2 separate regions of the Homo sapiens genome follow, and region 2 is linked to region 1. Evidence: fine-mapped expression QTL. A gene starts in region 1. The other region holds a variant in brackets. All regions are shown on one strand. Distances are between the middles of the regions. Region 1 holds the start of ELFN2 (extracellular leucine rich repeat and fibronectin type III domain containing 2). Region 2 holds the start of LOC100506271 (a long non-coding RNA gene).

Region 1 (12,407 bases):
TTCTTCCTTCGTTTGTTCACGCAGGCATACACTTGATCATTTTCCTTAGCAAATATTTTTGGAGTGCCATCTGCATGCCAGACCCTGAGCACGCAAAGGTGAATGGGACCCACCTGCCTTTGCTTCTGTGGCAGTGAGGGAGAGAGGAGGGGCTAGGTTTAGCAGGCAGAGCTGACAGGAGCCCAGGTGGCATCCAGGTGGCATTCAGGTAGCATCTGGGATTTGAGCCTGAGTAACTTGGTAGCAGCCACACAAACCCTCCCTTTGCCATGGAGTCTTGGGAATATATACAATGCATCCCCCTCCCCAGGGACCGTCAGTCCCCCAGATTCTACAGTGAGAGAACCTCAGGAAAGGCATGACTCTGGGAAGTGACAAGCGATTGTAGGGCTAAGAATGGGGCTTTGAGCCTAAAATATCCCCAGCGTCTCGTGGCCACAGCCTGGCTGCATCAGCAGGAAAGCCTGGGGGAATCATCGCCTCTTCTTCACTGTGTGATCCTGGTCAAATTGCTTAGCATCTCTGAGCCTCTGCAGTCAAATGAGAATAACAGAAGTACCTCGTAGATTGTTGTCATTATTCACAGAGACTTTAATTCATGTAGAGCACATGGCACCAAGCCTGAAGGAGAGTAAACACCTCCTTTTTGAGCTATTATTACGATTTTAGGAAGAGTGTGGCCAGGTTGCAGAAAACTCCAGATGCCAGCGTAAGGAGCTGGCGCTTTACCCTGTGGAGTCAGAGACCAGAAGTTTTTGAGCAGAAAAAAGAACATGAAGAAACCAGCCAGTCAGCTCCTTTCTAGCCCCTACAGCATCTGGAACCTCGGAGCCGGCAGCAGGTCAGCAGTGACAAGCCCAGCCATGAGGCCGGTGACCTCCAGCTCCCAGGAGCTGCCGGCTGCCCCAGTTCCGGACCCAGGCAGCAGCCTGCCCCCACCCCCAGCATCTCCCTGGAGGGAGCCAGATAGATGGTTTAATAATGCAGGCTGCCGGGCTGACCTCGTAGCCGCTGAGCCAGCTGAGGCTAACTCCGCTCCCCCTGCTGTGGCTCCCGCAGAATTCCAGAGCTCCCTGCAAGGGTGCTCAGATCCAAATGGCAGCCACACAATAGTGCGGGGTGCAGTGGCCTCTGGCTAGGGGACAGAATAAGTCAGGCAGATGCAGAGATCTGAGCCTTCCTTCCTCCTCCTCCAGCTCTCCCTGGGGGTGTCTCAGAGGAGTCTCCTGGTTCAGAGAGCTGAGAGGAGGCCATCTGCCATGGGGCTGTAAACACTCGGCAGATCCCGCTTCTGTTGGAGCAGGCCTCGGGGTTGGGGGGAGGGGGATGGACACTCTCGGTCTGGCCCTTGCACCATTGGGTGGGGCAGCTCACCAGGACCCTCCCCAAGCACCTGCTTGTGACTGGCAAGGGGCTGGGCACCCATGGCACAGATCTGGATTAGATGGTTGAATTGGCTGAAAATGGCTCACCTTCTAGTGGAGGCAGCCGGTGTGTCAAAAGGGGTGTCCCCCATTGTCCTCCTGTCCCCTCCCTATCTGACAGCACACTCCAGGGCTGCTCTACCAAGACTGGCGGGGAGGCAGCCTGGCAAACCTCACCATCCAGTCATCTCAGCCCCAGCCAGGCAAGCAGGGTGCCATCAGCACCTCTAATAGGGTTCTCTGGGGTCCCTCCCATAGCTGGGTCTCTGGACCTACAGGCATCCACGTGGACACTTCAAAATATCCCCCAGAGTGTGGCCCTGGCCTTTGGTCCTCACAGGCACCCCCTCACTGGGGCCACACCTTCGGCCACCTTTGACTCTTGTCCAGCCCTAGGGTCTTTATGCACATTCTTTATGCATCATTAGCCTTGAGCTGCCCTTGGTCTATAAACAATGAAGACCATAGGCTCTCAGAATCATGGACTCCTAAGGAATCAGGCCATCCTGTGTTGGCTGCCACTCCTCTAGTTCTGTTTTCGTCTTTGATAGTCTGGATGCAGAACACAGAACTTCCTCAACTTCCCCAAATATAATTGATTGATCTCAAAACCACTGGCCCCCAAGAGGGCTCCTGATGGTACCTCCCTCCTGGGCTCCACCCCCTGTGTGGTCCCCTCACTACAATGAATGGGTCAGATCCATGGAACCAACGGGAAAGCAAAAATGAGTGTTACTTCTGAGGACAGGTCTTAAGAGACACAGGCTTCCTACTTGTTCTCACTCTGGAGAAAGCAGCCGCAATGTTGTGAGGACACTCAAACAGTCCTATGGAGAGGTCCATGTGACAAGACACAGAGGACTCCCACCAACAGCCAACACCACCCTGCCAGCCACGTGAGGGAAGCATCTCAGAAGCAGATCCGCCAGCCCCAGTCCAACCTTCAGATGGGTGGAGCCCCAGCTAAACATCTTGACTGCAAGTTTATGAGACATTTCAAGGCTGAATCACCCTCTCCCAAATGCCTGACCACAGAAACTGTGAAATAATAAGCATGTCATTTTGCAGATTTAAGCCACTGAGTTTTGAGGTAATTCATTACAAAGCAATAAATGACTCATAGGAGAAACACGCAGACTTTTCTGAAGGGAGTGGGGGGAAGGAGGTGGTAGGGAGACTGAAGTGGGGGAGGGGGCTCGTAATGTACACACCACAGCAAAAGAATGTCAAAATCCTTCCTAGAAATACATGTGTTCTTCGCAACTAGGCCTCCTGGGCGGGTCGGCTTCCCTCCCTGTCACCTTCCTCCCGACTTGTGGTCTCTTCTCTCTCCTACTCATTCTCCCCCAGGCCCCAGCATCTGACAACTACCTTCATCCTTGCATGCCCTGACCTGTCACAGTGACCAGAAAAACAAAACACTCCTAGATAAGAGGACCCACCTTCCCCAGAAGGCAGCTCAGCCCCCATCTCTTCCTAGTCCACTTGGCAGGGTTCCACCGTGGGCAAGGACCACGCTTTGCCTTCCAGGCCCGTCTTTTTCTTCCAGGCTCTGTCTCACCACTGGCTCCTGTCCTCAGCGAGCTGATGTCCTCAGTTCCAGTACTGGAGGCGCAACAGAAATGTGATTTTAGGTCTGGATCCAAAGGAGGAATGTGACACCCCGCACAAGCTCTGGGGTGTGTGTGTGTGTGTGTGTGTGTGTGTGTGTTTCTCTGAAAGAATCACTTTAACCTAATTTTCTTAGCATCAACTCAAAATGCCACTGAGACCAAGTGAAGAAAATTTCACCTAAGTACAAAGGGTAAATCTTGTTATTCACCTTAAACAATGCGTGAAGCTTTTAGCATTTCTATGTTCCTCTCACTCTTCCTCCTCTGTTCTCTAAGCTTTGAAGAAAGGACGACTTTCTGGAAAAAATGTCTTTCTAGTGACGTGGCCAGGGCAGTGGGATCATTTGGATGTGGGCCATGCTTGTTCACCTTGAAAATAAAGGGCACTTTCTGGTGAGCTGTCAGCCAGGGGCAGCTCCTGTGCACCTCTGGGAGAAGGCCGAGCAGATGGGGTTCTGGGATGCAGGGCAGGTGCCCAGCCCACCCATGTCACCTGGCACTGACATTTCGAGGATGGTTCTGCTCCGGTTAATTTTCCTGTGCACGCGTCACTCCACCCACAGCGCAATTAGCCCAGCTGAGGGCAGGAAGTGGTACCTGGATTCACATTCCTCCAAGACTGTCCATGGTGGTGGGGAGAGGAGAAATTAGGGCGCTGGTGGGAAGGGGGGGTGGATGCTGTGTGCCCGGAAGAGAACCTCCTAACGTCTAGATTGGTGGCTTATTAATAAGAATAATGTGTGAAAATGGCCTTGCACAGTGCCTGGCCCTGAGCGAGCCCCTGACACATGGTTGCTACTTGATAGAGGTGACCAAGTGAAGAATAAGCTGGGGGAGGTGGACACATAGAGAATGAATAATGACATGATGTGATGTGTGCTGTCACTGAAGCCTTGCAGAGTGTTCTGGGAGCCGGTGGAGAAGGAAGTAGCTCAGCCAGCTCAGTTTAGGAGTGGTCAGGGGAGGCTTCACTGAGGAGGCGGCTTTCAAGCAGTACCTGAGGATAGGTAGAAAGTAGACAGGTAGGGAAGGGATCTGAGAGGAGGAAAGTCCTCCCACATCAAGGGAACAGGATCAAAAGCACAAAGGTGTGAAGATGATGGGGTGACAGATCCAACTCCATCTTCTATATGGTGGCAGAAAGTGAGTCTGGAAAGGGCAGATATTGGTGTTGCTGGGACCCAGAACATATGTGGGATGATATTGAAGATGCTGGAGGAATAAATAAGGACCAACTGCAACGGGCCTTATTTAGGCAAGTTAAAGAGTTTGGAGTTTTGGTCAGGTGCGGTGGCTCATGCCTGTAATCCCAGCACTTTGGGAGGCTGAAGCAGGAAGATCACCTGAGCTCAGGAGTTTGAGGCCAGTCTGGCCAAAATGGGGAAACCCCGTCTCTACTAAAAATACAAAAATTAGTCAGGCATGGTGGTGGGTGCCTGTAATCCCAGCTACTTGGGAGGCTGAGGCAGGACAATAGTTTGAACCTGGGAGGCGGAGGTTGCAGTGAGCGGAGGTTGCACCACTGTGAGTGGAGATTGCACCACTGCACTCCAGCCTGGGTGACAGAGAGAGGCACTGTCTCTAAAATAAATAAATAAATAGTGTTTGGATTTTATCCTGTAGCAGAGAGGGCTTACCATTCATCTCTGTATTTATTCCTGAGGCAGACATCACCAATTGATCATGCCATTTTCTGCAAAGGGTGAGCACCTCTAGGCAGCTGCTGCCAATCACTTGTCATGAGAAAGAGAACATATTTGCCTCTGTGCATGGGCTCTGGGGAGCTACTGGAGGGTTTAAACAGATGGGTGGTGAGGGAGTTTGTTGCAGGTATCCAGGTGACGGCAAGCCTGGTCTGGGGCAGTGACTGTGGGAATGGACATGTTATTGCTTACGTTTGTCTCGGTCTTAACCATTCAGCTACGGATTCTAGGCAGTCTCCTGAGCTCCCCGCTCCCCGCATTCCCAGGTCCTCAGGGTTCCCTGTGTGTGTGTCTGTGTGTTTGTGTGTGTGCATTAGGTCTGCCTGGGCTTGATTTTAATAAGGAGCTTGCTATATGTCTGGAGCTGCACTATCTCACATGGCAGCCACAAGCCACATTATGGCTATTTAAATTTAAAGTAATAACAATTAAAATTAAAAATTTAGTTCCTCAGCCACATTAGCCACAATTCCAATCACTCAATAGCCACATGCAGTTAGTGGCTACTGTCTTTGACAGTGCAGACATGTATCCTTTCCACTATGGTCTAGAGAAAGCCCAGTCGAGTGTCTAGATGGTGTGGTCCACTATGACCCTCAGGCCAGGCCAACTCTATCTTCTATATGGTGGCAGAAAGTCAGCTAAGAGCTGAAACTCTTGTCAATGTACATCTGCCCAGTAAGGGCAAAGTCTCCAAAGGGAGATTCTTAGACCGTTTTAGAGCTTCAAACAAATTCTGACCAAATCCAGCCAGACCTGGAGGTCTCCAGGGAGAAGGGAGTGGCCGGCACTGTGCTGGGGGTACTGGCTGCTTTTGCTATATTTCTTTCACAAAGGAGGAAACAGGCTCAGAGAGGGTTGTGACTTGCACTCTGGAAGATGACTGGGAATGTCTCGGAAACAGAGCAGCAAGAGGCTGTTTTGCCACTGACTCCCTGGTATTCTTTGGGGTCATCACTGCTCAGTTTCTTGGGCAGGAGCGGATTAGGTGGCATCTGCCAGTGCCCATCTCAGAAAGTGTCTGGGCCTGAGAGCCACAGGGGGGCTGTTGGCTTGGGGAGCACTCTAATTTCTCGAGGGATCCGCCAGAGGGCGCAGAGGCCGTTATGTTCCGCCTGAGGGGCTCTTCCAGCAAGGTCTTGGAGCTGGGACCCTGCTTCTTGCCCAGCCTTGTCAGGGATACACACCATGTGTTGGATACCGCCCCTGCCCTGTAGGAGGGCTCAGTTTAGAGGGCAGAGACAGCACATGGCTTGTTTGGGTTTGCAGCGAGGGACCTTGAAGGATGGGTAGGAGTGTGCCAGGCAGCCTGGGGTGCAGGTGGGGAACGCCCAATAGTCCTTCTGCATACCCCAGGACAACAAGTGGCCTGTGACCCAGTGCTTGTCTGCCCTCCCAGCCCCATCCTGGGCCGTTCCCTGTTCTTAGTTGAAAGGAGGGAGGAATTTCTGGACAGACGTTCTTTCTGCTCTACTAATACCCAACTCCGTGGAGTTCCCTGTACACACATACAAAGCTGTTTCATGCCTCTGTGCCTCTTTGCACATGCTGTTCCCAGAGTCCAGGACACCCTTCTCCTCCTTCTTTAGCTGGCCAACTCCTACTCATCCATCAAGATTCAGCTCAGGCAGTGGCTTCTTCTGGGGAGTCTCCTTATTCCAGACCTGCATGAGATGTCCCGACGGGGAGTTCCCGCAGCCTGGACTTCATCTGCTGTGCAACACCTGAGAACAGGCGCTGGTGCATGCGGTCCTATAAAAGTGATGGAGAAGTACAGGGCCTGCTGGCAGCAGGCCTCCGACATGCAGCTCGCAGGGCCTCGGGAGGAGGTGCTTGCATGCCCAAGCACCAAGTTATAGGCCCCGGGTGCCAGGCTTCTTGCATCTTCCACCTCCTCCTCCTCCTCCCAGCATCCACCCCTTTGCAGGTGGCAGCAGGTGGCAGGGGCTTTGGCGTAAGGGGCGGGGAACTGGGCCTCTGGAAGGCTAATGAAGGTTCTCTAGCTACAGATGAGCCCAGTATCCCTTGGACCTACTCCTGGAGGGGTGGGGAAAGGCAGTGAGTGCCCTGGCACAAGGTAGGGGAGCGTAAAGTCTAATACTGTCTGTAGGCTCCCTGTGTAACCTTGGGGGAATCACTCCTCTCCGAACCTCAGTTGTCTGGCCTGTAAAATGGGAACGCAGCAGCCGCACTTCCCCAGTCGCCAGCGGTTGAACGCGGGACCAACCAGCAGGGCGCAGGCGGCAGGGCATGGAGGTACAAGGCGGAGAGGGGGCCCATCAGCGGAGGCGGAGTCCAGGGGGAGGGCGAGTCCAGGCGCACTTCGGGCGGCCCCGCCGCAAGTTTGCCCCCAGCTGTTGAATGCGCTGGCGGAGGCCGGACCCGGACCCGGACCCGGATCCCGCGGGGTGAGCAGCGCAGGGGGCCGCGGCCGGGACAGGGGTCCGCCAGGCCGGGGCTCGGGTCCGTGGGGCCGCCTTCGCCTCCCCGGGCGCTGCAGCTGCAGCGGCGGCGCCAGGCGCGGCCCCAGCCCCGCGGGCGTGTGTCTGCGAGCGCGCGTGTGTCCGTGGAGCGTGCGGCCGGCTCGGGGGCGGGAGCGGGCTTGCTGCGGAAAGGCCTGCGGAGGGCACCGGGAGCGGGCGGGCTGGCGGACGGACAGACGGGGACGGACAGACGGACACAGCCTGCCGCGGTCCCTGACGCGCGCCGCTTGGCCCCTCCCGGGCGCCCTCCCCGCCGAGGCAGGGGCAGAGGCGCGGCGGCGGGGAGGAGGGGGCGGCGGCGTCTGCGCGCACACGCGCGCTCCCAGACACACACACAGACACACGCGGGCCACCCCACGGCCACGCACCCCGCACCCACACCCGCGCTCACACTCACATTCACACTCACACTCACACGCGCAGGCCCCGCGGCCGCCGCTTCCCGGAGGCGGTGCTTGGCCCGGATCCCGGCTGGGGCTGGGGTAAGTGAATTCCTCTGGATCCGAGCGCCGCGACCGACCGACCGGGGAGACGGTGGGAGTCGGGGCTGGAGCCGGAGGGCACCCCCTCCGTCAGTGGGGGTGGGGCTTGGAGAGGGACACGGAAGGGGGGATGAGACGGGGAGAGCCACCCCCAGTGTCTCCTGGGTCTGGGGATCCCCGTGAGACCCCCGGGGGACCACCCTGCGCGAGGGAGGTGGTGGTGGTGGCGGTGGGCGGAGGCGGTGGGAGGACACCGAGGACGGTCGGTGAGGTGAGCGTTTCTGGGGGTGGTGCAGAGGCTCGATGGTGGACGGTGTGCCAGCCGGTGCCACACTGCACCTCTCTGCCCTCATCTTTTCGAATCGGGGGCCCTAACCCCTCTCTTTCACGGGGTGCTGCCGGGTCAAGGCATTCATCCTCTAGCTGGTAAGAGGGGTTGACGGGGTGGATGCCTTCTAGGGGAAGGGGGGCCAGGGTGGGGCTTGACGGCGGTGGGGTTGGTAAGACCAGAATTGGGGGGTGGGGACCCTTTCAGAGGCGCTGGCCAGGGACAAGGAGGGAGGCAGCCCAGGGAGGCGGCATAAATCGCAGACACTGCAGCTCTGGCAGGGCCGGGGCCACTGCCGGGTGTGTGTGTGTGTGTGTGTTTGTGTGTGTGTGCGAGCGCGTGCCAGTGTGTGTGTGTGCGTGCGTGTGTGGGCTCCAGCAGCTGTCAGGGGACGGGGAGGGGGTGGGTGTGTTGGCTGGTGGGGCGCCGTGTGCATGTGGAGAGGATTGTGCGTGCTGTGTGTGTGTGGTGTGTGCGTGTGTGTGTGGACATGGGGTGGACCCTGCTCTCTGTCTGTATACACACAAGCGCACACACGCACACTGTCAGTGGCCTGGCAGGATTTCCTCGGAATGTTTGGAGGGAAGGGAGCTGATGTGTGTGTGTGTGTGTGCGCGCGCGCGCGTGTGCATGCACACTCGGGGAGCTTGTGTCCAAAACAGAGGCCACAGGCCATGGTGTGTCAGGCGTGCCCAAGGAGGGAGACGAGAAGGGGACAGTGGTGCTGACCGTGCACTCAGCTGGGGAGGAACGTGGTACTCGGCACTTTCTGCAGCTCAGGGCTCTGTGCTGTGCCCCTTCCCCCTGGACTCCTCCCACCCAGCAGCTGCGGCTGGAGGGCACTGCCTTGGTCCCTTGCTGAGACGCAGGTGTTGGGCTGGAGTGTGTGTGTGTGTCTGGGCTGCGGCTGTCGCTATCAGCAGGCCAGGCTGTCGGAGTCAGAAAGCTGGAGGGAGTGGGGTGCTGGCAGCACCTGGAGGAATGTGGTGGAAGCTGTGGGGCGCGGACTGCCCGGCGCGGTTACCGAGAGGCGTTTTAATATGCAAGTTGCATCATGAGATGGGACTGGGAGTGTGTGTGTGTGTGTGTGTGTGTGTGTATGTGTATGTGCATGGCTGACACCCCTGTTCTCGTGGCCCGTGGACACCTGTGGGACGTGTCACGTCTGGGCCATCAGCAAAGCATGTGGGCATGTGTGTCCCCTGAGAGGGGTGCACAGGCAGGTGCTGTCCTGATGAGCCGGGGGCCCTGCAACTGTGTGGGTGGGGAGGTGGGTACCTCTGGGCCATCAACGCCTAGGCAGGAAGAAAGAGTGTTAATTGTGGGGACATCAGGAAAAAGTATGTATGTGAGGTCAGTGAGAACCTCAGGTGTGACATAAGCTCCAGGCCGCAGGTGACGTCACTGGGACAGTTTTGTCGGAGGTTGCTCCCCCCAGCCAGAGTGTGTAAATGTGATGTCACGGGAGTGTGTGTGGCCGAGTGTGGTTATGTCTCTTGTATATGAGGGGTGGGAAGGGGAGAGGGATGGAGCCTTAGGACGCGTGGCGTGGTCCCTCCCAAGAGGCCGCCTTTCCCAGCATCCTGAGTGGGCATGGGACCCCTTTCCTTAAGTCCTGCCCCCTGAAGAGTGCACCTTCCAGGACTGGAACCCCCGAAGGAGGTTCTCACATCAGCACCATTGGCTGCTGAACTCCTTTGCCAGGTGGGCCTGGAGGCCTCCAATGTGCTGCAGCCCCCTATCTGACCTCCCCAGTCCCTGTTTTCCTCTTCATCCCAGCCAGGCCCACCACCCCTGGGTGGATGTGCTTTAATGAGTGAGTGTGTCAGTGCATGTGACAATAGAAAATGGCCATAGCCAGGGAGCGTGAGGCCATTGGTTCGAATCCCATTTTGCTGCTTTCTGTGTTTTGTGATTTAAGCATTCGCGTCGCCTCTCTGAGCCTCAGTCTCTCCTCTGTAACATGGGGTGAGGGGTTAGAGAGGTGAAGGGGGTTAAGGAGACCATGGGCCTTGTGGGGGGCGGGTGCTGATGCCTGGCATATGGTGGGGGCTCAGTCCACGTGAGCTCTGTCCTCTCACCTCCTATCCCCCTAGCCCAGAGTAGCTGCTTTCCTGTTTTGGTTTAAGTCTAACTTTGCAAAGGACTTTCTTTTCTTTCCTTGGATTTCCACGGCAGTTCTTTGAGGTGGGTGAGTTAGCCACTATTATGTGGATATTTGACAGATGAGTAAACTGAGTTCTGGAATAAGCTGTCTGTTGATTTAATGTGAATTCCATCCCCCCCCCCGCCGCCCTCAGTGGCTACAGGGAGACACATTTGATTACCCAGCCCCTTCTCGAGGGGTACCTTCCTTTCCTGGAGAGATATGGAGCTATGAGGAATTGGTGGTGGGGTGCCAGGTGATGAGCCCAAGGCCAAGAGTCTCTGGCTGGAGGAGAGGCTGCTCTTGACTCCCAGGTCAGTGCTCTCTTGCTCTTCCACCCACAAGCTCCAGAAACAGTCAGCGTGATAGGAACGGGCACACTCAGCAAGCCTTCTCCAGTGGGGCGTGTCTAGGGCGGTCACTGGGGGCTCCATGCCTGTTCCTCAATATCCCCTGAGGTCTTGTAGGATGCTTGTTTTTGGCAGCAGAATTGGGTTCCAGTGACACCCCTGCCGCATCTGCATCCTGGCTGTGTGTGACAGAGGTCAGCCTCTCCTGTCTCTGTAAGAGGGTGGTGGCAGCTTCCCTTGCGGGTGTGATGTGTGAGTGTGAAAGGGTGACAACCGTGTGCAGGGCTGGGAGGCACACATTGCTGCTACCCTCACCTGCTCCGGCCACAGTGCCTGGGGGCCAAGCTCCTCTCTCGGTGCCCCCACCTGCCCCATGTTGTGACATGTGCTGTGTGGAGTGGATGGCCGAGAAGTAGGATTGCCTCGAAACCTGACGCTTCTTAGCAAGTTAGACCTCTTCAGGAGCTGTGTTAATCGTCTAGAAGGTTTACCCAGTCCTCTGCCTCCTGCCGTCCCAGCCCAATCCCTGATTAAATTAACCTTCTCTTGGCTCAATTACCACCTGGGGCAGAGGCATTGACATTATTACTGGAGATGGTGTCTGGGGGTTGGAATAATTGAGCCCCCTCTCCTTCCCCCTAGCTCTGCCGACAGTCCCCAGGAAAGCCCCAGAGAAGCCCTGAGGACTCAAGAGCCACCTGGGCAGGCTTGCTTATGCCTGGGGTGCCAGAGGAAGGGTGCTGGCTGCACGATGCTGCTGATTGAAATAGTAATAACTATAGTGATAATAATAATAATGATATCAGCTAATATTATTGAGCCCCTACTGAGAGCCAGGCCCGGTTCGAAGCTCTTTATGGGCGGCATTCGTTTAGTCCCACAAAAGCCAGCTGCAGCAGGCACTATTATTATTCCTCATTTTGAAGACAAGAAACAGAGAGGTTACAGACCAGTCCAGGGCCACACAGCGATGGAACCAGGACTGGAACCCTCGAAGGGAAACTCTCACATCAGCACCATTGGCTGCTGAACTCCTTTGCCAGATGGGCCTGGAGGCCTCTACATCTTGGCCTACCCCTCTCACTGAAGGCCCTTTCTGGGCCTTGCTTTGCTTATCTGTAAATGGGTGCAGTGACCCTGCCCTAGGGAAGCTGGGGGTGGCGGACGCCCTTTGCTTTGGCTGCAAGGAGAGACAGGAAAGGAGGGGCCTCGTGGGTGGTGCCTGCATCTCAACCCCCCATCCCATTCCCCACAGAGATGGGACACCCCCAAAGGCAGCCCTTTGCTCCCTGGCCCTCCCACAGTGCCTCGAACAGCAGCGCTTGGAGGGCTCCCCCGGGTGACAGTGGGGAGGTTGCCCCAGGATCAGTATCTTCTTCAGGTCCCGAGTCTATCGTGGCCTCAGCTGTGGCCCCCTGGACTCCCCACCTGGCCATCTTGCTTGTGGAAAGGGCAGGGGCAGGGCTCCAAATCCAACCTCTTTTCCTCCTCGGTGTGGGTCCTGGGCAAGTCACTTCCCCCCCCCCCCCCGAGGCCCAGTTTCCTCAATATGAAGTGGGGACAAAAGTACCGAATTCTTGGTTGGGCGTGGTGGCTCACACCTGTAATCCTAGCACTTTGGGAGGCCGAGGCAGAAGGATCACCTGAGGTCAGGAGTTCGAGACCAGCCTGGCCAACATGGTGAAACCCTGTCTCTACTAAAAATACAAAAAATTATTCGGGCATCGTGGTGCATGCCTGTAATCCCAGCTACTCAGGAGGTTGAGGCAGGAGAATCGCTTGAACCCAGGAGGCCCAGGTTGCAGTGAGCCGAGATTGTGCTACTGCACTCCAGCCTGGGTGACAGAGTGAGGCTCCGTCTCAAAAAAAACTTCCCCA
Region 2 (12,407 bases), 70 kb after region 1:
GTCTCTGCTGGGGCTTGGTTTGAAGGAGTTGACAGTTCCAAGGTGACTCTGGTGACCCTTGTAGCTACTGGGCCAGGAACTTCCTTTTCTGTTTAGTTGTTTAGCTGAATATTCCCCTCCCTCAAGCTCCCCCTGCCTCAACAACTATAAATGTTTTCCAGAGGTGAGCCTAAAATGAGCCCTTGTGGCTGCAGGGTTTGGGGGATCACTGGATCTCACTGGTTCTCAGGGTCTCCTTTATTTAGTCTCTGAAGGCAGGGTTCCAGGCACTCAGCCCCAGGCCCAGTGTCTCAGAGGCTGGCCTCCTCCTGCTCCTGTCATTGGTGGGTCCAGGGTCACTGTGGGACCCACTGGTTCTCTCCTCTGGGCTCAGCCTGGGCAGCCTGTCCTGGACCCCTGCCCCACCTGCTCCTCTGGTGCCCTCCCACCATCTGCTGTTCATTTTTGTCACAGCCCGGAAGCATTCCTGCTCCTTCTCAGATTTAGGAGGTACCTTGTCTCTCTGGTCAGGCTGAGGCACTCAGGTCAGCATCCAGTGACCTCAGGCTGAACTGCCCAAGCCTTTGTTCGGGGGCAGCCTGGGGCCCACCGCCCAGCCCCAGCCTCCTTGCTTCCCAGAGGCAGAGCCCACCTGCCCTTTTCTCAGACTCCTGTTCTCCAACTGCTACCAACCCCTCTTCCAGGAAGGCCCCTGGATTTGGCCTGGATTGTTATGGCTTGCTTTAAATGAACTCCCTTGTCCTAAGCTATTCCCTGTGACTGGTGTCACAGCGTGGCACTCATCCCTGGCCTGTGTCTACAGGAGCTGTGTCCTGCTGGCTCTGGTGGCCCATGGGGTTTCCTGCTCCCTTCCTGCCTCCATGGGAGTTGGCTGAACTGTGGGGACCCTCTGGGATGACCCAGGGCTTGGCCCCTCACTGTTTTCCTGCCTGGGCCCCAGCTGGCCCCTGTCCCCTCTGAGTGCCCTCACACAGGCCCAGTGCAGCTGTCCCAGTGGGGCTGTGGCCAGGCCAGTCTCTCTCTTGCTCTGCACCCCCGGCTCTTTCCTGGCAGCCCTTGTGCTTCTTCCGGAGCCCCTCATCCCTGAGGCTGCCCCGTGGCCCTGTGCCTGGCCCTGAATCCCAGGCAATCCTCCCTTGCTGCCGCCACCACCCTGGCCTCCCCGAGGCTTCCATCCTATTGGTGTTGTGAGGTTAGGGTCTGCAAGCCCCTTTTTCCAGGAAAGCCTTTACTGTCTAGTCCTTGGCCAAGGGAGGCTTAGGTGATCCCTGCTGGCTCAGGTGTTTTCTTCATATTCTTCCCAGACTGTGGGGCTGGGGAATCCAATTCTGAGTTCTGCTCTTGGTCTCACTTTACCCCAATTCCCCTGGATTGCAGGTCCCATCTGCAGCTTCCTGGTCTCTGCATCTGAGGACTCCCACATGGGGAACTGGTTGGCCCCATGAGCCTCCTTCCCAAGGCCCTTTGTCTGCAAGGAAGGAGACCTGATGCTAGGTGTGCATTGGAGGTGACGGTTCTGGCCTCCCGCTGTCACTGTCTTCCCAACCCTGCACCTGTGGGTCACCCTCTGCTCCTTGTTGTCCAGGCTGCTCTCGGCCCTGCCGTTCTGGGAGCTCAGCCATTGCCCCCTCCCTCAGGCATGTGGGGACATGTCAGGAAGCTAGGGCTTTTCTGCTTTCCCCACCACTCCTGCCTGGAGGGTTTCACGGCTAGACTCCTAGGGCCCAACCTCCAGTTGAGGCCCGGGCTGCCTCTCCGGCATATGCTGGCAGCCCCTTCTCCTTCCCTAGGCCTAGGGCCCCAGCCTGCTGTCAGCGCCAAGCCCACGACACCCATTCTTACCCAGTCCCCACCCCAAATCCCCCTCTCTCTGTTGGCCTCCTCTAAAACTGCCCTCACCTGCATCTCAGACCGCGCATCTTCCGTCCTCCCCGTCCTTGCCAAACTAAGCAAGGTCACGTGTGAAGGAGTTCCCAGGGGGGTGAAACTCCTCCAGCAACTCTCGCCTCCCCTGATTTAGATAACTCCCAGAATCTGCAATGGTCTAGGGGGAGAAAACTCACTCATCTGCCCCTCTCTCTTCTCACTTACTTTTCAAACAAATTGTATGGCTCAATCCCCATATGTTAAGCACCATGGCTGTGAATTTATAGACTTCAGTCCGGTTTCTATTGCAGAGAACAGAATTCTCTGTAACTAATTTAAGCAGGAAAAAAAAATTCACAAGAGGAAACCAAGTGGTGGATGGAATTGTCAGGAGGGCTGCAGACCAGACTCAGGGGTAGCCTTTTCAAACTGACTTTTAAAATAACTACGCAGGACTGACCCACCAAGGGAGCTGCCACCTGTTTCTGCTTCATGGGGCTGCTGAGGGAATGAATCGGTACCTCGGGGGGCCCTGGGCTGCTGTTGCCAGGATCACAGCAGCTGCAGGGGTACCCCTTGGGTGCTGGCAATGGGCTGTGGACTCTCATTCTAGGGCAGGGACGATGGCGGTAGAAGCATCTCTCTGCCTCACTGCTTCCTTCCAAGGCTCTCAGAAGAGCATCTGATCTGTAGAGCCCAAACATCTGTCCTGCAGCTTTAAGAGGGTTTGGCAGGGTTGGGCTGATGCCTCACATCTGGTGTGTGGACCAGGGTGTGTTTATTTCCTCGGCAGCTCCATGAAGTAGGGGCTTTACCCCTGCTCTACACTTTGGGGGAAAGACTCAGAGACAGTAATTGGCCCAAGCAAGCACAGCATACCCAGAAGAGCTGGAAGGAGCTCTAACCCACTTTACTCCCAAACTTTGCCTGTTCCCCTGGAGGTCAGGGCCCAAAGACCCGAGTCCCAGATCGGGCATGGCCCAACGTCCCAACCTTAGGCCAGTGGAGTGTCGAGAGATGCCACCTGTACAATAATCCTGGGGCCTGTGCCGGCCCTGTCAACCCCTGCATCTCGTGTCTTGTTGCTAAAATTCTGGTTCCTGCTGAGATGTCTGCTCCAAATCTTTCCTTTAAAGATGGGAAGAATGAGCCCCCCAAAATAAGGGTTGGAAACGGGGAGAGCCTTCCTGTGGTCATAGGAAGCATGATCAGGGAAGAAGAGGTTACGTCTGGCAGTTATTTAGATTATAACCCAGAGACGGGGGGAGGAGGAGGCAGGTGGCACCAGGATTAAGGGGGTCCCTGCCACAGGGCATATATGTGAGAAGGGTCTGCTCTGACCCTCTCCTAGCCCCCTGCTCTTCCCCACGGGCTGATGAGTCTGCAGGGCCCACGGGCATTCCCAGACACTTTCCACTTGACCATGCTCCAAGCACCTGGGATGCCAGGATTGACTGTCCAGTTGGCCCCGGACATGTTTCCAAGGCCTGTCCTTCCCAGGGTGGACCGTGCCACCCATGTGGGCACTCCTAGGCATGAGAGATGACCAAGGAGTAGCTGCGTGTGGGAGGTGTAGGCAGGGCTTGAATGCGTGGGGTGGCAGTCTCTATGCATGCCTGTGAGACCCTTTAAGTTGTGAGATAGTGCTGTGGGCGAGAAGAGGGTGTCCTATGGGCCGGAGAATGGGGCTTGACTTTCCATAGGCCACCACATTTAGGGAGGCCAGGAATTTGAAATTCAAACCTGTTAGAGGTCATCGTGAAGGTACATTTGTCAAGGCAGGAGGATATTCTAACAGTTTGTTAGCTGAATGGAGAACTTTTCAGTATTTAGACACACAGGATTTGGGCTTCCCTTTGTACTCACGCCCAGGCCTAGGAAATACTAGGGATAGGCCTGGGCTCTGAGTTAATGGGGCCTGGGGGTAGAAGTCAGATGGTGTGGGATGGGCCCACTGTTTGGAGGAAAAGGCTATACATGGAGGAAAAGGGAGAGGAAGTGGTTTTGCTGTTTTGTGTCTGGGCAGGAGCAGGGTGGGCTTGGAAGGCTGCTCACAGAGGAGGGAACGACCCTGCGGGGACTGGGGAGGTGGAAGGGGAGATGGCGTCACTTGGGCCCAGGAGTTGAGTGGGGCTGGCAGGAACTTCTCCTGGGGGTGGGAGGAAGGTGGGATGGAACTGGCAACTCATGGAGGGCAGGATAAGGGGGTAGGGAGGAGGGGGGCTCAGAAAGTCACTTTACATTTGGAGTGTCTTCCTTTTGCCCTTTCCAGCTAAGTAAAAAGCATATTTTTCTCTTTACTGCTGCTCAGCAGCATCTCATGGCCCCATTGCTTTTCCTAGTTTCTTGCTCTGAGGGTCAACTCACAAGTCTTCTTCTACATGCCATGTGAGGCACCAGCCCTGGCTGGCACCTGTGGTGGGAAAGCCTAAAGGAGACAGCACCTCTGTCTCTGGGGAGCTGCCGGGATGTGGCTGTCCCTTAGCTGTTTATAACGGTCCTTTGACATGGTTCAGGTGAGGGTTAAAGGCGGGAAGTAACCCTAGGAGACAGTGGAGCCTCGAGTGGCTCAGTCCCTGCTGTAAACCCCATTCCAGAGGGCACAGTCCACCCATCACATAGCACTAGAGGGGAGCGCCGCGCTTCACTCTGCCCACTGCAGTGAGGCTTCTGGGCCATCTTGGTTCTTCATCTCCATTTTTGTTCTGCCTTGTACGAGCCTCTTCTTTGTTCTGCTTTGTTGCCTCATGGCCAGAGCTGCTCTTGCCTCCTGTTTTGTGTCTGATATTTCAGTTTCTGCAGCTCCCATTTCCTGTCTTTGGCCCCTGCTTTCCCAGCTGCTTTCGGTCTAAGGAGCTTTCTGACTTTAGGACCTGAGAGTGGAAGTCTCCCCACTGACTCCCTGTTGACAGCTGATCATCGACTCCCCTCAGTCTCACCCTGAGCTGTCCCTGTGCCAGCCGGATGGAGGTTGCTAAGCAGGGGTGGCGTGGGGTGTACAGAGGTACGTGGTCCACGGCTCTTAACTGGAGGACTTCACTGAGGGACGAGTCACCCACTGTGTGTCCGCACTGTGCTCACACACAGAGCTTCCAGTGCCACCTCACAAGAGAGCCATGAGGTAGGCATGAGGCCGTTTGAGTTCTGTTGTACTCCAATGAGGAAAAGGTACTTACTTTTACCCTCCGTGTATGGACCAGGGAACTGAGGCCCAACAAATGCTGATTAACGCAGGCAAGGGCTGGCTGCCCACTCTCCCTGACTCCAGGAGCTCATGTCCCCATCCCAGGCCTGGCTGCCTCTACACCCATAAATGCATGATGAGACACCCCAGGCCAGACTATGAACTTAGGGCTGGACTGACCACCAGGGAGTGTGGTTGAGGTGGGAGACGGAGACTCAACTCTAGACCAGATTGAAGAGTGGCTAAAACAGGAAGAGGCCCTGAAAGCACCTCTCTCCAGAAGTCATGCCCACCACCAGCACCATGAGTTTTACCTTTGTCTATAGCAATACCCGGAAGTTACTGCCCCTTTCCATGGCAATGACCTGGAAGTTACAGCTCCTTTTCTAGAAATTTCTAAATAACCTGCCCCTTAATTTGCATGTGATGAAAAGTGGGTATAAACATGACTGCAGAACTCCTCCTGAGCTGCTGCTGTCAGCACACTGCCCGTGGGGTAGCCCTGCTCTGCAGGGGCAATCACAGAGCTGTAACACTATCACCTCTGTAAAGCTGTTTCTTCCACCACCAGCTCACACTTGAATTCTTTCCTGAGCAAAGCCGAGAAACTTCTTAGGGTAGGCTCCAAGTCTGGGGCTCGTCTGCCCTGCCCCATGGTGGTCAGGCAGTACTGGGCCTTGGAGTGCTCCTCCGAACTCCAGAGCCTCAATTTCCACCTCTGTGAAATGGATTGAGCTACTCCTGCTTCACGTAGCTGTATCGAGGCACGGAAGCCTTGAGAGCTGAGGAGCGTTCATACCGTGGCCTGGCCCAGGTAGGGGCCGCTCGAGAATGTTGGCTGAATGAAGGAGGCTGCGACAGTGTTGCAGATACA[G/A]CAATGGAAGCAGATGCTTTGGTCAAAAGAAATAGACCCCATAGAGGGCCGAGAGCCAGGAAGGAGAGAGCCAGGAGAACCTCCGAGTGGGGTAAAGGAAGAGGGGAGTGGCAGGGGCCTGGCCAGGGAGGCCAGGGGAAGGCTCCCAAGAAGGACCAGGCCAGTGAGGGCAAAGCCGAGCCCCTTGTGCTGAGGGTCAGTGACAGCGACCTCACACCATCTGAGTCTTTCTGAGATCCAAACTTGGTTACTCTCCTTCCCTTCCTCATTTGGACCAGATGATTGCGTTTTACAAATTATATTTTCAATTCCCTGCCGGGTGGCCTTAATCCAGGTCTCCATCTCTCTCTTGGATTCCTGCCACAGCTGGAGACAGTCACGGAGGTGCTAAAGTGTCGACTCACTGATTCCCTACTTAGTGCACTCCCCCAAGCCCCAGGGCTTCCAATACCAACATATGGATATATGTTGGTGACTTCCAGCCCCACGTCCATCTCAGATAGCCCAGCGGCCCCCAGTCCTCCTGCTTCCTATGTAAGTGGCAGTCCCCTGCCACTCAAGCCAACATGATGGGCCGTTTTTTTGGAGCTAGTCTCCACCTTCCCCTCATCTCATACTGACTTGATCTTGACAACTCATCTCAATCTGGCTGCTCCTCTCCATGTACCCATTCCCCTTGGGGTGCAAGCCACACCACCCTTCACTTGGGGGATGATAGCAGCCAGTGGGCCCACATCTGGCTGTGCCCCTCATCTGTTAGATAATCTCACAGGCTCTTCCAGCCATGCTGAGAAGGCCCATCACCGACTCATGCCTCTGGACCTTGGCACCTGCCAGAAATGGTAGTCCCACTCCCCCTGCCAGTGATTGGCTTAGGAATGGCCACGGGACCCAGTTCCAACCAGGAAGAGGAAATGGGACGAGAAGAATGATCCTCCTTTAGAATCGGTTGTATCTAATCGGGATGCAGATGCCTGAAACTCTGCAGTTTAGGAAACACTAGGGCCCTCTCTGTGAAACATTGAGATGTCCAAGTGGAAAGAGAACAAATCCTGTATTCGAAGAAACGGTGGACCGAGGCTCGCCCCGGCGGACCTGGACCTGCGTGCCTCTGCCTTCTCATGTGAACTGATGTCTCTTGCTTGAACTCACTTGAGTAAAGGTTTTGTGCCACTTGTAGCATGTGCAGATGTAACCATCAACACGGAACTCCTACTTCCTGGAGACTGGGGGGGATTTGAACTTACTGTAGGTTCACGGAGTGACAAAGCTGTTTCTAGGGCCGATGCAGCCGTGGGCCATGTGAATAGGATCACGGGGTCTGGCCTGGGGGAGGTGAGGGTTCTGTGCTCTCCCGTACTGGCCAGACTCCACCTGGAGAGGCTATGGTCAGTCCAGGGTGAATATGCCAGGAGGGAGGTTGACCCGCCAGGTCCACCTGCTGAGAATGATAGCAATTAGAAGGGTTGGGAATCCCTGCCACGCAAGGGATGAGTGAGAAAATGGGGCTTTTTCTCCTGGCAAAGAGAAGGTTGGCTGTGGGACTTCACTTCGGCTTCAGATGCGTGCAGGGTGATGTGTGGAGGGGGTGGCCACGCTCGTGCTGCTGACCAAGAGGAAGTCGATGACAGTACAGAGTTTGTCAACAATTGAGGGCAAATTCAGACTTCAGTGGGTATCATTCTCACCCAGGGAAGTTGGTAAAAACAGAAGGGCCCAGGCCCTGTCTTTCAATAAGCCTGGGCTCCAAGTTGTTAGCACTCTAGGGGGTTCTAGGGCACCGCAACATTTTTGCAATGCCTGACTCAAGGGAAGGAAGCCAACATTTGTGAGGCATTTAACGTGAGCCACGTGTTGAGCTGGGCCCATCCCTGTGGCTCCCATTTGATTTTGACACAAATTCTTAGAGCCAAGCACTGCTACAGATGGTTTTGGGAAGTGTAGTGAGTTCCCCATAAGAAGTGTGGCTAAAAATCAGTAAGAAAAGGATGATCAGTGTGAGAGGAAAAGGAGAGTAGGAAAAGAGAATTCTTAGATGAAGCCATAAAAATGGCGAAGAAACCTATGCAAAGATACTCCTCTGTTGTGGCAGAGATCACAAGCTGTTCTCCAGTATCCACCTTCCCTTCTTCCACAGGAGCAAAACCCTTCATTTTCAGCCAGGCATGTGGTCTATTATTAAGACATTCCCCAACCTCCCGTCTAGCGTGAGGCCCCGTACTCAAGTTCTGGTCAATGAGAAGTAGCAGATTCCAGGAACCGTCCTAAAAAGGCAGCTGACAGGTGTTCCTTATTTCCTTTTTCTTTATCTTTTTCTTGTGGCTGGAATACGAGACATAATGGTTGGGGCTCCAGCAGCCCTTATGGGGCAGTGAGGAGACCTTGGGGACAGAGATCCCACATAGCAAAGTAACAAGAGGAGGGGTCTGCGTGACCAAAACCATGGAGTAGAGCTGACATGCCAGCTCTAGACTGCCGTCCTCCTGATTTTACTTAAGCAATAAATGTCTGGCTGGAGTCTCTGTTATTTGTTCCTCTGCCTATTCCTCGCTGATAACAACAGAGAAATACAAAACAAGACAATGAACTTTCCAAACTCCTGATCACTTTTCACTCATGAGATTGGCAGAAACCTAAAAAGACGATGATATTGTTAGAGACAGTGTAGTGCTGTGGTTCACATCCCTCCTGCTCTGGACTTACCAGCTGTGGGAACGTGGACAAAGTGTGTAATCCTCTGTGCCTCAGTTTCCTCACCTAAAAAATGAGTGTCAAACCCAGTACTACCCCACAGAGTCATTGTGAGGGATCAGTGTTTAGAACAGTGCCCCATGCAGAGCACACATAAGTGTCTGCCGTGACTATTACTATTTAGCTGACGTACCTGAGGTGGGTGCGCAGGTGTAGAGGAAAGACGTTCACGCCTGGCCAGGAGTGTGAAACGTAGACAGCCATTTCAGAGGGCTCTTGATGTTTCAAAACTTTCAAACTACATACAAGACTCCCCCCAAGGTGCCCCCTCTAACCCTGAAATTCCACCTCTAGGACCCTGAATCCCTTGGGGTCAAACATGTTTCAGATTTTCGGAAGGTAACTTGGCGCATATGCCCCATCCTGTGTTACTCTTCCCCGGGGTCTGGGGCTGCCCCATGCTGTAGACCCTCTGGGGTGTTCAGCCCACCTCAAGTGCAACTGGGGAATTCTGGGGAGTGAAGGCCCTTCGGGTAACCCTCAGCTGGTAGAGCCCAGGGGCAGGTGGGTAAGCGCCCAGCAGCCTCTAGTCCTTCAGAGAAGCACCCCACATTGCTCAGGAGGTCCTAGAGAAGTTGACCGCCCCCTCCTGCAGTGCCCTCTGCAGTGACCTCCGTAACGACCCTTGTATTATCTTCTCCCAACCCCCGTCTCACTCTCCCCGGTTGCTCCCTCCTGGATTCTGGTGTCACCTTCCAAAAAAACACCTGCACTCAAGTCCTGTCTCAGGCTTTGCTTTTGGGGAACTCAGCCCAAGACAACCCCCTGATGAAACACATTATTTCTTCAGCAAGCTGCACACATATCACAGCAAGTGGGAGAAACAAAAGACGCTGAACACTCTCACGTCAATTTGGGTCAGGTTTGCTGGCAAATAGGTAGAAGAAAAGACGTATGGTTCTGGGAGCATTTGGGTTTCATGGCTGTGGATATGGGACTGGACTGCACTCTGCGGAGCACAAAGGCAACCTCTCTTGCTGAGTTCACTCGGTGTGAGTGGAGAGGCTCCCCCGGCCACGGACTGCACTCAGAAGGCCTGAGACCACAGCAGTCACCAGGAGTTGGGCCCTCCAGGAGCTGATACTTGAGTGTAGAAGATGTCTGCTGGGGCTCCTGGCAACACTTGGGAAGGGAGCCCTTTGGGTGGGGAGACAAGGCCACAATCGATGGGTGCTCAGGGATGGCCCCGCTGCAGAGGTGAGGTCTGAGAAGGGACTTGACAATGAGAGGAAGCCTAGGACGCCAGCACCACCTCCACCTCGCCACCACGGCAGGTGCTCCTGATGGGTCTCAGGGCGAGCGCACCCTCTGCCAGTGACAGGTCAGGTGTGGGCTGTGACCAGTCTCAGCCAATGAGACATCAGGGAGGGCCCGCAGGTGGCCTCGGGCCCGGCCAGCCTGGATGCTGAGGCCGACCTATGAGGCTGACTCGAGGTGGGGAAGAGCAGAACAGGCAAACGGCCAGTGCTCACCCTGCTCCCTGCCAGGCAGCACTGTGGATGGGCTTGTGGCCCACGTGAGACTGAGCAGGGATTTCTGTCACTTGCGGCAGAAAACCTCCCACTGGCTAGCAAGCACCTGGTCCATCCCAAGGGACAGACTGACAGGCTATGGCTTGTCCCCATCATGGAACACAGCAGAGCGCCGAAAAGAAAGAGGGGGTATCCTCCCGTCCTGAAAAGGAACCAGCGACGAGAGATGTCATCTGTTCTCAACCAGGGGTAATTTTGCTCCCTAGGTAGGTTGCCAGGTTAAGGAAATAAAAATGCAGGGCAGCCAGTTCAAGCTGAATTTCAGACCGTGCATGTTAACTAGATGTCCTGTATTTACTGTGGCAACCTTACCCCCAGGGGACATTTGGCAATGTCTGGAGGCAGTTTTGGTTGTCACTGGGGATGGTTAGGTGCTACCAGCATCTGGTGGGAAGGCACCGGGGGTGCTTTTAAACATTTCACAATGCATAGGACAGCTGAGGCCAAAAAAAAAAAAAAAAATTATCCAGCCTAAAATGTCAGTTGTAACAAGGGTGAGAACCCCTGTATTAAATGAAAGATAGCAAAAACCCCATAAGAACCCCATAAGATATGGTAGGATCTCATTTGTACGTCCTGTATTTACTCTGGCAACCCTACCCCCAGGGGACATTTGGCAATGTCTGGGGTTGTTACTGCGGATGGGGTTGTGTGTGTGTGTGTTTCTTTTTTTCTTTTTACACACCCAACTAAGCCATAGAATCGCATAGAAAAAGGTATGGAAGGTCACATACCTAAGTCATGTGGGGTAGGGAGTGGTCATTCCTTTTACTCTAAATACCTTCTGCAGTGTTTTATTATTTGTGAAGTTAATTATAACTGAAGTGAATATATACGTGTATACACACACACACAGAAAGCATGCCTATCAAAACAATAGATATTTCACAAAGTGAACACACCCATGGCATGGCCTCCTGATGAAGATGAAGAACATGGCCACTGCTCCATGAGGCCCTTTGCAGTCCTGCCAGCCTCTCCCTCGAGGGCTGCGAGGGGAACTGCTGTCCTGACTTCCAACCTGCTTTGGGCTCCACATGAACCGAATTCTGCCCGACGTCCTCGCTTGAGACTGGCGTCTTTCCCTCAGCAACGTGTCATGATTCATTCATGTGGATCGGAGCAGCGGTTGGATCATTTTCATTGCTGTGAAATACACCACAATGGATTTATGCATTCAACCGTTGATGGACATTTGGGTCGTTTCCCGTTTGGCAAGATGATGAAGAAAGCTGGTATGAGCATTCTTTCACACGTCTTTTCTTGGGCATATGTACTCACTCCTGTTGAGTGTAAACCTAGGAATGAATCGCTCAGTCATAGGGCAAATGTGTGTTCCTCTTTCCTAGATACCATTCGAGTTCCCAAAGTGCTTGCACGGGTTTACGCTGCCATCCACCAGAGATGAAAGTTCCGCCTGGGCTGCTGCCTCCTGGCCAAGCCTGGCTGGGTTGTAGCTTTTGCGCTTTAGTCCCTCTGGTGGGTGTGTAAATTGCTAATCACTGTGATTTTAATTCGCATTTCCCTGATGATGAAGCTGAGCACTTTTTCATAACTTTATGGGCCATTTGATTGTCCTCTTTTGTGAAATGCCTATTCGGGCCATTGGTCCATTTTTCCATGAGGTTATCTCCGTTTCTCTCATTGATTTGTAATTAAGAGTCCTGTTGCAAATCTCTTTTCCCGCTGTGCGGCTTCTTGCCTTTTCCTTCGCTTACAACGCTCCATGCTGTCCTGGACCCTAGCATCACCCAGGCCTAGGTAATAGAAGGGTGGCTTTTGTAAAGCGACTCAAGGCTGAGAAGGGAACAGACACTCTTAGCACAATAAGCTACAGGCTGAAAAACAGCCGGAGGTGAATCTTTGCAGCGTGAATGGTCTGGCTGTCTTTTATAAAAGTAACTCGATTGGACTAGACCCCATGAGGGACTCTGCTCCTCCGCTCCCCTTTCCCTGAGGACCTAATTCCCCACTGGGTCAGCCGCAGAACCAGATAGAGCTGGGGACTCACGACCCGTGCTGACGACTGGATGCAAGAGGAGGAAGGACTTTGGTGGAGAGAAGGAATCAAAAGGAACCAAGGTACGCAGCTGGGGGCAGGGGAGGTGAGAACATGGGAGAGGGTTCTGGGAAGGGGCTTACTGCTGTCATGGGCAGGACACATTGAGTAGACCCCTTCCTGTGGTCTCTGTGTAGGCCA

Evidence for each region.
Region 2: its variant is fine-mapped to the expression of ELFN2 in testis (GTEx, PIP above 0.99). The same link has a PIP of 0.9 or more in nucleus accumbens and prefrontal cortex.

Annotation. Positions count from the first base shown.
Region 1 is chr22:37,422,596-37,435,002 of GRCh38, reverse strand. It overlaps ELFN2 (extracellular leucine rich repeat and fibronectin type III domain containing 2), which reads left to right and starts at 7,524. Exons shown (of 3, transcript NM_052906.5): 1 at 7,524-7,705.
Region 2 is chr22:37,353,008-37,365,414 of GRCh38, reverse strand. LOC100506271 (a long non-coding RNA gene) reads left to right here and starts at 10,576. Exons shown (of 2, transcript NR_110515.1): 1 at 10,576-12,289. It also overlaps a transcript of ELFN2 not described here. RefSeq lists enhancers at 9,540-10,040, 10,041-10,541. The variant G/A (reference allele first, on the strand shown) is at 5,925.